Linked DNA regions of Homo sapiens. The protein of the gene in region 1 purifies or fractionates together with the protein of each later gene. This does not show direct contact. Each region holds a gene or a part of one and is shown in the gene's direction. Other genes may lie near its edges.

Region 1 (4,968 bases):
CATTGGGCAGTATTCCTTATTTCCTTTTAGTCAGTTGTTTGTGTTTATAATTATCTAGAGCAGGGATTGGCAAACTTTTCTGTAAAGGGCCAGATAGGAAGTAGGCGTTGCGGACCCCACGGTCCCTGTCCCAGCCCCTTAGCCGTGCCACTGTGGCATGAAGCAGCCACAGACGGTGCCTAGAGGGACGGGCATGGCTGGTTCCGGAGGAACTTTATTTATAAAACCAGCCAGATTCAGCCCCCAGGCTGGGGTTTGCCAAGCTCTGGTCTAGAAAACAGTGCACACACTGGCTTAATATAGTATAGTATAGGGACATGGAGCATGTAGATGCGTTAAAAGGTCATTTTCAGATAGGCACAGTGGCTCACGCCTCTAACCCTAACACTCTGGGAGGCCGAGGCAGGAGGATCACTTCACACCAGAAGCTTAAGACCAGTCTGGGCAACAACCATCTCTATAAAAAATTAAAAAGTTAGCCAGGCAGAGTAGCACATGCCTGTAGTCCCAGCTACTCTGGAGGCTGAGGCAGGAGGATTGCCTGAGCCCAGGAGGTCAAGGCTGCAGTGAGCAATGATTATGCCACTGCACTCCAGACTGGGCAGCAGTGAGATCCTGTCTCTAAAAAAAAAAGTCATTTTCTTTTAGGTTGATTTCTTGCTATTTGGCTGTGTGGGAAGTAAATAGCACCTCGAACAAACAGGGCTTAGCACTAGTAGGTACTAAATAAATATGGATTTGGCAGAGGGCATACATTAGTTCATTTTCACACTGCTGTAAAGAACTGCCTGAGACTGGGTAACCTATAAGGGAAAGAGGTTTCATTGATTCACAGTTCTGCATGGCTGGGAAGGCCCCAGGAAACTTAACAATCATGGTGGAAGGCAAAGCAGGCACATGTTACACAGTGGCAGCAGTGAGAGAGAGAGTGTGTAGGAGGAACTGTCAAACACTTACAAAACCATCAGATCTCGTGAAAACTCACTATCGAGACCAGCATGGGGGAAACTGCCCCCATGATCCAATCACCTCCCACCAGGAACTGCCTGTTCCTGTAGGGATGTAGGGATGATGGGGATTACAGTTCGAGCTGAGATTTGGATGGGGACACAGAGCCAAACCCTATCAGGGCAGAAACCTCTAAGGCTTTATGATCGCAGATCCACTGCATTGCAGCCATCCCCTCGGTTGCACAGACATTCCCTTTCTCGCACTTTGATGCTGGAATCACTGGTCTTTTCACCTTCGTAGGAGGTGTCACTCCAGGATGTCCGGAAAGAAATCAACTTCTGCCGCAAGGTGAAGCTGCCCATCATCGGGGTGGTGGAGAACATGAGTGGCTTCATCTGTCCTAAGTGCAAGGTGAGGGCGCGTGGGGCTGCCAGGCGAGCAAGATCTTGCTCTCATGGATGAGGAAACGATCGGAAGGCTGCTCTGCAAACTATTTCTGCTTTCCCTGTCATTTTGGGAAGTGGAATCACAATTAAAATCCCTTTCTGCTGACTAAAGGAAAGTTCTTTAGGTGTTAAGGGTTCCACATTCAAACTAAGCCTTTTTTTTTTTTTTAAGTTTCTTTAAAATGTGGTCCATCCTTGTGATTCTGCAAAAAAATTATGTTTCCTCCCCTTTGAATTTGCCTTGCAGAAAGAATCTCAGATATTCCCTCCCACAACCGGGGGCGCGGAGCTCATGTGCCAGGACTTGGAGGTCCCTCTCCTCGGCAGAGTGCCCCTGGATCCGCTCATAGGTGGGTGACCCCAGTGTGGGGCGGCACCTCACTCCTCGGTCAGCCCCACAGGCACGGGTCGGGCACAACAGGGGGCGGCTACAGAGAGGGGCAATGGAAGGAGGAGGGTCAATGGGGCGCTGGAGCCAGACCCACCCTCCAGCTGGCACCCCAAGAGGCCACCGGGAGAGAGGCCGAGACCCCTGCGGGCAGGTAGCGGGAGCAAGCAGGCCTCAGGCAGAGGGGTGAGGCCTGGAAGAATGGGGTAGAGGTTGGTGAGGGTGGTGGTGGCAGGGGACTGAGGAGGGCACCCGATAGAGGGGCGGCTCCAGGGGATGCACATGGCGTCCAGGTTACAGAGGAAGGCGGCCTGAGGTGAAAATCCCTTAGGAAGGGGCCGGGCCTCCTGTGCCCGGAGAAGCCAGCACGGCACAGATGAGGCCCCTTTGTCTCCAGCACCGGGACAGACCGGAACGCGGATCACTGGCCTGCGAGCAGGGGCCAAGTTCCCAAAAAATGCTCTTCTTAAGTACGTGGGTCTCCCAGGATCCCAAGAGATGCCCACTCCCTGAGTGGCCCTGAGGCTGAAGGAGGGACGGGGTTTCACGTCTCCACCCACACGCCCGCCGGGCGCCCACTCGCCGCGGGGCGCTGGGCAGGGCCTACACTCGAAGCTGCTCCCCCAGGAGGCTGCTGTCCCCCAGGACCGCGGAGCCGGGCGGGCCTCCGTTACTGGGGCCCTTTAGTGGGGCTCCTGCGGGGCGTCCAGCACTCGCCTTTAGGTCTGAGGGGAGAACAGAGAGAGAAGGCTGGAGGGGAGGCCGGGATCCAGGAGTGCCGGCTGCACCCATGCCTCGGAACTTCCACTCCATTTGTCAGGGAACCAAGGCCAGTGTGAGGTGTCTGTGCCGGGACAGGAGAGAGGGGCCGGGCGGGTGAAGTATGGCCTGGCCAGGAGAGGGTGGGGGCCGCGTGCTTGGGGAGAGGGCGGGGCCCGTGGAGAGCCTGGAGGCGGGGAGGGCGGAGGCCACGTGGGGAGCCTTGGGGAAGGGCTGCATGGGGAGAATGGGAGCCTGTGGGAAACGACTGTCAGTGTCATGTGCCTGGGAACAGGAGGCTCAGGAGTGGCTGCCCTGGGATAGGGGTTCAGGATGAGGCCCTGGGTTCTGGCGTTGGTGTAGAAAGGAAGGGACACACACAAGAGAGAAAGTGACGGCATCTGAGGGTCAAGGTTGTCCCTGCTGCCAGTACAAGTCACCTGGAGGAGGGTCCGTCCCTCAGAGACAGTGAAGCAGGGGTGGTAGAGGGAGGCCGGGCCCTCTGGGGTGCTGCGGCTAAGGGGCTCGGGGGCTCAGGTTGTCAGCAGGTTCTGGGGTCCGTCAGGAGAAGGTGGTTCATGTCCGTGCAGTTGAGTTTTGAAGCCACAGGACATGGACAGGATTGCCAAGGGGCCGTGCAGAAAGCGGGAGCCAGGAGGACAGTGTTGGGGGATGGCTGCCTCGAGGAAGTGGTAGGGGGGTAGGGTGCGAGGGCCACTCTGAAGATGGGAACAGCCCGGGAGAACGCCAGAGACCCCATGTGCCCAGGAGGCTGTGTCCCCAAATCCTTTTTCCCTTATTCCCACATCCCACAATACTTCTCTGGCATGTGATTTCCCCAACAACATGCAGAAAAGTACAGCTGCTTTCTCAACCTTCCCCAGCATCATAAAACACTCACCAGGCAGCTTTTGCAGTGGCCGGAAGTGGTGATGAGAGCTGCCCTCTGAGGCCCCTGGAGGCAGTTGGGCTGCATGAATGGATGTGATTGGGGACAGGAGCTTGCAGCAGCCCAGGGCACATCCATTCCTGCCAGCCTGCACCTCTGCCACAGTTCAGCTCTGCCGAGATGGGATTGGTGGGCAGGACGTTTGTCAGGGGAAACATCTGTGGGAGAAAATGACAAGGGAGAGCGTTAGCCCACGATGAAGGAGTGGGGGAAGGAACATATCAGCCCGAAAGAGCATCACGGCCCATAGGAGTATCTCAGCCCCTGGAAGCATCTCAGCCCAAGGGAGCATCCCAGCCCTCAAGAGCATCTCAGCCCATGGGAGCATCCCAGCCCAAGGGAGTATCTCAGCCCACAGGAGTATCTCAGGCCACGGGAGCATCCCAACTCAAAGGAGCATCTCAGCCCACAGGAGTACCTCAGCCCATGGGAGCATCCCAGCCCAAAGGAGCATCTCAGCCCACTGGAGCATCCCAGCCCAAGGGAGTATCTCAGCCCACAGGAGTATCTCAGCCCACGGGAGCATCCCAACTCAAAGGAGCATCTCAGCCCACAGGAGTATCTCAGCCCACGGGAGCATCCCAGCCCGAAGGAGCGTCTCAGCCCACTGGAGCATCTCAGCCCATGGGAGCATCTTAGCCTGCTGGAGCACCTCAGTGTACTTTGCTTTTTGGCATCTCAGTCTGCTGGAGTATTTGTCTATTGGAGCATCTCAGTCTGCTGGAGTGTGGCAGTCTATTGGAGCATCTCAGTCTGCTGGAGTATGCCAGTCTGTTGGAGCATCTCAGTCTGCTGGAGTATTTGTCTATTGGAGAATCTCAGTCTGCTGGAGTATGCCAGTGTGTTGGAGCATCTCAGTCTGCTGGAGTATGTCAGTCTATTGGAGCATCTCAGTCTGCTGGAGTATTTGTCTATTGGAGCATCTCATTCTGCTGGAGTATTTGTCTATTGGAGCATCTCAGTCTGCTGGAGTATGTCAGTCTATTGGAGCATCTCAGTCTGCTGGAGTATGTCAGTCTATTGGAGCATCTCAGTCTGCTGGAGTATGTCAGTCTATTGGAGCATCTCAGTCTGCTGGAGTAGGTCTATTGGAGCATCTCAGTCTGCTGGAGTATGTCAGTCTGTTGGAGCATCTCAGTCTGCTGGAGTATGTCAGTCTGTTGGAGCATCTCAGTCTGCTGGAGTATGTCAGTCTGTTGGAGCATCTCAGTCTGCTGGAGTATGTCAGTCTGTTGGAGCATCTGTCTGCTGGAGTATGTCAGTCTGTTGGAGCATCTCAGTCTGCTGGAGTATGTCAGTCTGTTGGAGCATCTGTCTGCTGGAGTGTCTTGGCTGCTGTCGAGGAAAGCTGGGCACAGCCACCAGGGCATTCCTGAGCCCACTTACCCATCAGAGGGGCTGCATCTCCCAGAAGCGTGCCTGCCCGAGTGCCATGCTCGTCTCAGTCACTAGCTAGGAGCAGCCTGGGAGTGGCA
Region 2 (4,886 bases), on another chromosome or scaffold:
CTATTTGGTCTAATTGGCAAAGGATTCTGTGGAATAGCAGAATTCTAACTTTGCAGCCGGGCGCGGTGGCTCACGCCGGTAACCCCAGCACTTTGGGAGGCTGAGGCGGGCGGATCATGATGTCAAGAGATCGAGACCATCCTGGCCAACATGGTGAAACCCCGTCTCTACTAAAAATACAAAAAAATTAGCTGGGCATGGTGGCACGCCCTGTAGTGCCAGCTACTCGGGAGGCTGAGGCAGGAGAATCACTTGAACCTGGGAGGTGGAGGTTGCAGTGAGCCGAGATTGCGCCCCTGCACTCCAGCCTGGGGAGAGAGTGAGACTCTGACTCAAAAAAATAAAATAAAAATAAAAATAAAAATTCTAACTTTGCTGGTTTCCTAACCCCCAAATTCAGATGAATTTGAATTCTGAAATACAGTAACAGGAATTATCAGCCTGTCTGATTCTAAATTTTGTTGGATCTTCCTCCCAGGACCGTGGACAGCCCAGCCAGCTGTAAAGGCCTCTAAAAAGATCTGGAACAGATCCCCAAGAGGTATCTCACCAAATGAGTCCATTCCACTACAATGGCCAGAATCTTCAGTTTTACACCCTTGCTCATGCCCACCGCTCACCCGGAGTCCAGACCCAAGCACCATGCTGCGTAGTTCCTAATACGGCAAAACTATCCAGCATTTTTGGTGAAATTGGCTGGAATGCTTCACTTAGTCCGTTTTTCACTGTTAGCAGGAGAACCACCCTAGTATCTTTCATAGAACAGATCCGAATGACAAACACCATCGTGCCCTCGGAGGGCTGAGCTTGTGTTACTGGGTCTGGTCCTACAAACCCTGAAAATCCTGAATCTCTCAAGCAAAGAGATTCCCCAGGGCCAGCTCTGGCCCTTAACAGGCACCCCTTAACGCCAAGCTGCGAATCTGGCTAGGACCTCTATATTTTAGCCAAGAACACCTTGAAATGTACAGTCCTACCAAAGGAACTAATACAAATCCAGAAGCACAAGGCTAAAGAAAAAAAAAAAAAAAACCCCAATGCCCATTGTTGAAAGCCAATTGCGGGGTGAGTGGGGTGATAAGGCTAGCCCACAGCGGATTTAGGCGACGTGGGGAGATGCCAAAGTGAATACACGGTGACTTCTAAATCTAGACGTCTGGAAGGGGCCATGAGAGCCAGACAACTGGGCCCGAACCCCGCCCGGGAGCCAGGGTTTGCAAGGGGCTAAACCGGCTGGGGAGCCTCCCTCTCGCGGGTCCAGCCTCGGCGGCCCGGGACGCCGGTAGGCGGGGCCTGAGCCTCGCCCCGCCCCCGCTGCCCGCCATTCGGGTCACCTGACCCACCCGCGGCTCACGTGATCCGTCCCCAGCGCCGCCATTTTGGAGCTCCGGATGAGGAGGGGGAAACCGGGGGAAAAGAGGGAAAAGAGCCGGGAGAGAGGTGGGCAAGGACGAGGGCGAGGGCACGGCCGGGTCCTGGCTGGCCAAACGAGGCTCGCGGAAGCAGCAGCCGCCGCCTGACCGCAGGTACCGCGCCCCGGGGCCGCCCCTCCGCCCGCTGTTAGCGCCGCCGCCGGCCATGTGCATCCTCCCCTCAGGCCTCTGCCGGCGCTCGCTTCCTCCTCAGCCGGCCGACCCCCGCCCGGTGCTAGCCACAAGCCCCAAGTTCCGTGTCCCGGTTCTGTCTTCTGTGCAGCAAGGCCTGCGGAGACTCTGGGCTTGCCCTGCAGCTGGGGGTGGGGGGAACTTGCTGCTCCCTGCATACTGTCACCAGCCCGGCCCGCCCGCAGGCGTTGCTTCCTTCTCCAGGCGTTGCTTCTTTCTGCAAATGTGAGATCGCTTAGGCCAGCCGGGATGGACCCAGCCACGATGTTCTCACAGCATCTTTTGATTAATTTTCTAAGCTCCCTCATTCCCGACCCATCACCTCAGTCCTTTAGCCAGTGCGTGGTGTAGAAAAAGCTACTACAGAAACGCAGCCCTGGTCTTCTGCATTTATTACCATCCTCTGGAGATAGAATGATGTCTCCAGAGATCACGGAGACCATCAGGGAAAGTTCCCACCTCTTAAGACCTGGGGGCATCGGAATGAATGGTTTGTGTAGAAGGCCGGGATGATTAATAAGGTGGCGGCCACTTTCCCAACCCCAAGGCGGTATTTTTAAGTTTCTGCAGTGGGCTGTAATTTGCTATCAGTCTGCATCGCTCTTCTCAGGCAATTACTGGATTTATCACCTCTTTGAGTTTGCACTTTCTCCAGTACTCCCCTCTCACTCAGAGTATGGGTTGCATTATTGATTAAAAGAAAGCCTGGCCCTTCATTCCTTTACCTCACTAACTCGTTGAAAATTAACTTCAGGGGAGCCCTAAAGATGTTTTTTCTGCCCTGGCAGTGAGCTATTTTACTTAACCGTAATCGATAAGGTAGTTGCATTCTAGGTGAAACGAATAAGCATTTTTTTATCTTTTAGATTTATTCCAGCCAGTATAAGAAACAGTGGCAAAGAAATGTAGGACCAGAGTAGGAAACTGCGTTAGAAGATATATAGGTCACACCACTGTGTCATATCTTTTTATGCTGTTTTTCTGCCTATTGTGCTTGGTTGCAGAATCACTCGTTAGATTGTATTTTTAGTTTAGATTAAAATAGCAATGTGCAATTTATTGTTCCATTCTCATTAGAAAATGTTGTCAGTAAAACCAATAGTGTTGAGTCCAGTACCTAAATTCTGAGGTAAAACAAAATACACAATTATTGGGAGAAGTTTCCAGAGCTATTTTTTCCTAACTTCTGCAAAATCCTCAAGTCGGCTTGTTAGATAAATTATTTAAATTTGCATTACGTAATAGGGTTGCATGAACATTCCTCTGAATTTCTTTTTACATGGAATATTGAGAAATTTTTCACTGCCAAAAAAAAAATCATTACTTTGTTTCACCAAGAAAGAGAAATGTTTTGATACTATATACTTTCGTTCTTGGCCACAGCTGGATTTTGAAGATTGATCCAAGGGACTGTATTAATTTCAGGAATTGATTTGAAAGACACTGGCTCTGCCACTTAACAGCCATGTAACCTTGGGTAAGTCACTTAAACCACACTGAGTGTTTCCTTATTTATAAGACTGTATAACACCCACCTAGCCTGTCCTAAAGAGTTATGAGGATCAGATACCACTAACATGTTTGATAGAGCCTAGCTGTAAGGAGCTGTTACTCTTTTCAGTATTGATATTTTGTACATTTTTATTCTCATTGAGAATTAAGATGAAAATTGGTGTATTAGAGAAAGCATGGTTTTAGAGTGAGATTGGCCTGGATTCCTGTTCTTAAACCAGTTACCACTTTGTGTCTGTGAGTCTCAGGTTTCTCATCTGCAAAAAAAAAAAAAATACACAAAATTTGAATATTACACAAAATCTACAGAGGCATTACTCCCTAGACTTGCACCTCATGGGCAAGGATTTCCTCAGTCATTTTTGTAGTCCCCAGCATTCTGGTTGGCACATTATAGGTGCTCAATAAATGACAGTAAATCTGAATATTGGTTAATGTTAGTTAGACCTTATGTCTTCATTGCAGCTGCCAAATTAGAATATTCTCTCAGGCTATGTGCCAACTAAGAAACTCTAGACTATGAAACTCCATATACTTGTGATATTTATACTCATTTTTTTCTTAGTGGTAATTAATAATTACCTTGGGCTCAGAAGATTTTAAATCAAATAAATTGTAGCCAATATAGTGAGGTAAATCTATAAATAATGTGTAAGCAGTTTCCAGGTAACTTTATAGACAGTTTATAATTCAGGGACCTGAAAGTTCATCTAGCTTCACCCTCTTGTTTTACATCTGAGCAATCTAAAACTCACAGAGACAGTGACTTGCCTAAGGTCACACAGCTAATTGAGGGCACTTTAGGGGAGGGACCCTTGAGCTTATGTCCCCTGCCTTCTTTTGGCTGGAGCAAAATAAATTTGTCATATTTTAGAATTACAATAATCTGGAAGAATGGGGAATTTATTGGCCATTACTTTTATAGCACAATTTTTTTTTTTTTCCCATTTTGGAAAAAACAAATTCTTGTTCTGAAAGAGAAGGTTCTTTTGTATCATATTGTACTTTTCTTCATATAAACACAGAAAATTACAGCCTTTTCTCCAGGCCCACATGAATTGTTCAACTTGATTTTACTCATGATGACCATACTACTGTAATTATAAAGAACTAATTAGATACCCAAATAACCAAATAGCAAATTATAAGGAAATAAAGACAACTGAAATAATTTGGCTCCTAACTTTTTGTGAGAAAGATATTAATTAGAAGCATTTGCCTGTGGAATACTGTTGTCAAGGAAAGATTTGAGAGAGTTGGTGGAAAGGGTTATAGAACTTTTCTGGTTTGGGATACAACTTTTGTTTATTACTTATTTATTGGTAACAATTTAATATATTTAATGTTGTTATGTCTAAACATTACAAACAAGAAATCTCCTGTTTTGCTAATGCCTGTCGTCTTCTTTCCTCCTGGTGAACTTTCCTATTCAGCCATATCGATCTTTTCACTCACCCCCAGATAGCATGCTTATTCTTACTTCTAAAAATATAGTCATGTCATGGCTGCTTTTCTGGTCACTGCTACCCTTGTGTCAACTTGTATCAGCAGTATTCCAAGGAAGCAAATGGCACGTTGAAATGAGGATAATTCAAGGAAGGTATATTTACAAAGATATTAGTAATAAAGGTGTTGGACTTCAATAAGCAAACCACAGCATAATGCAGTTATCTGGAGCTAGCAGCATTAGGAGAGGGAGAGGCATCAGAATCAGAAGAAGGGTCTTGGAGAGCAGCCTACCTGGAAAGAAATAGCCTTCTATTGAGGAAC

Evidence for each region.
Region 2: the proteins of NUBP1 (region 1) and ZNF507 purify together in Homo sapiens (affinity purification with mass spectrometry; one large-scale study listed by BioGRID and IntAct). This does not show direct contact.

The regions. Positions count from the first base shown.
Region 1 is NC_000016.10:10,760,113-10,765,080, forward strand, and holds part of NUBP1 (cytosolic Fe-S cluster assembly factor NUBP1), read left to right. Parts: intron 1-799; exon of another isoform or gene 800-1,251; coding exon 1,252-1,362; exon of another isoform or gene 1,363-1,456; intron 1,457-1,644; coding exon 1,645-1,747; coding exon of another isoform or gene 1,748-1,751; intron 1,752-2,404; exon of another isoform or gene 2,405-4,968. UniProt on the Homo sapiens protein: Component of the cytosolic iron-sulfur (Fe/S) protein assembly (CIA) machinery. Required for maturation of extramitochondrial Fe-S proteins.
Region 2 is NC_000019.10:32,344,258-32,349,143, forward strand, and holds the start of ZNF507 (zinc finger protein 507), read left to right. Parts: upstream 1-1,352; 5' UTR 1,353-1,526; intron 1,527-2,987; 5' UTR 2,988-3,081; intron 3,082-3,227; exon of another isoform or gene 3,228-3,373; intron 3,374-4,856; exon of another isoform or gene 4,857-4,886. UniProt on the Homo sapiens protein: May be involved in transcriptional regulation.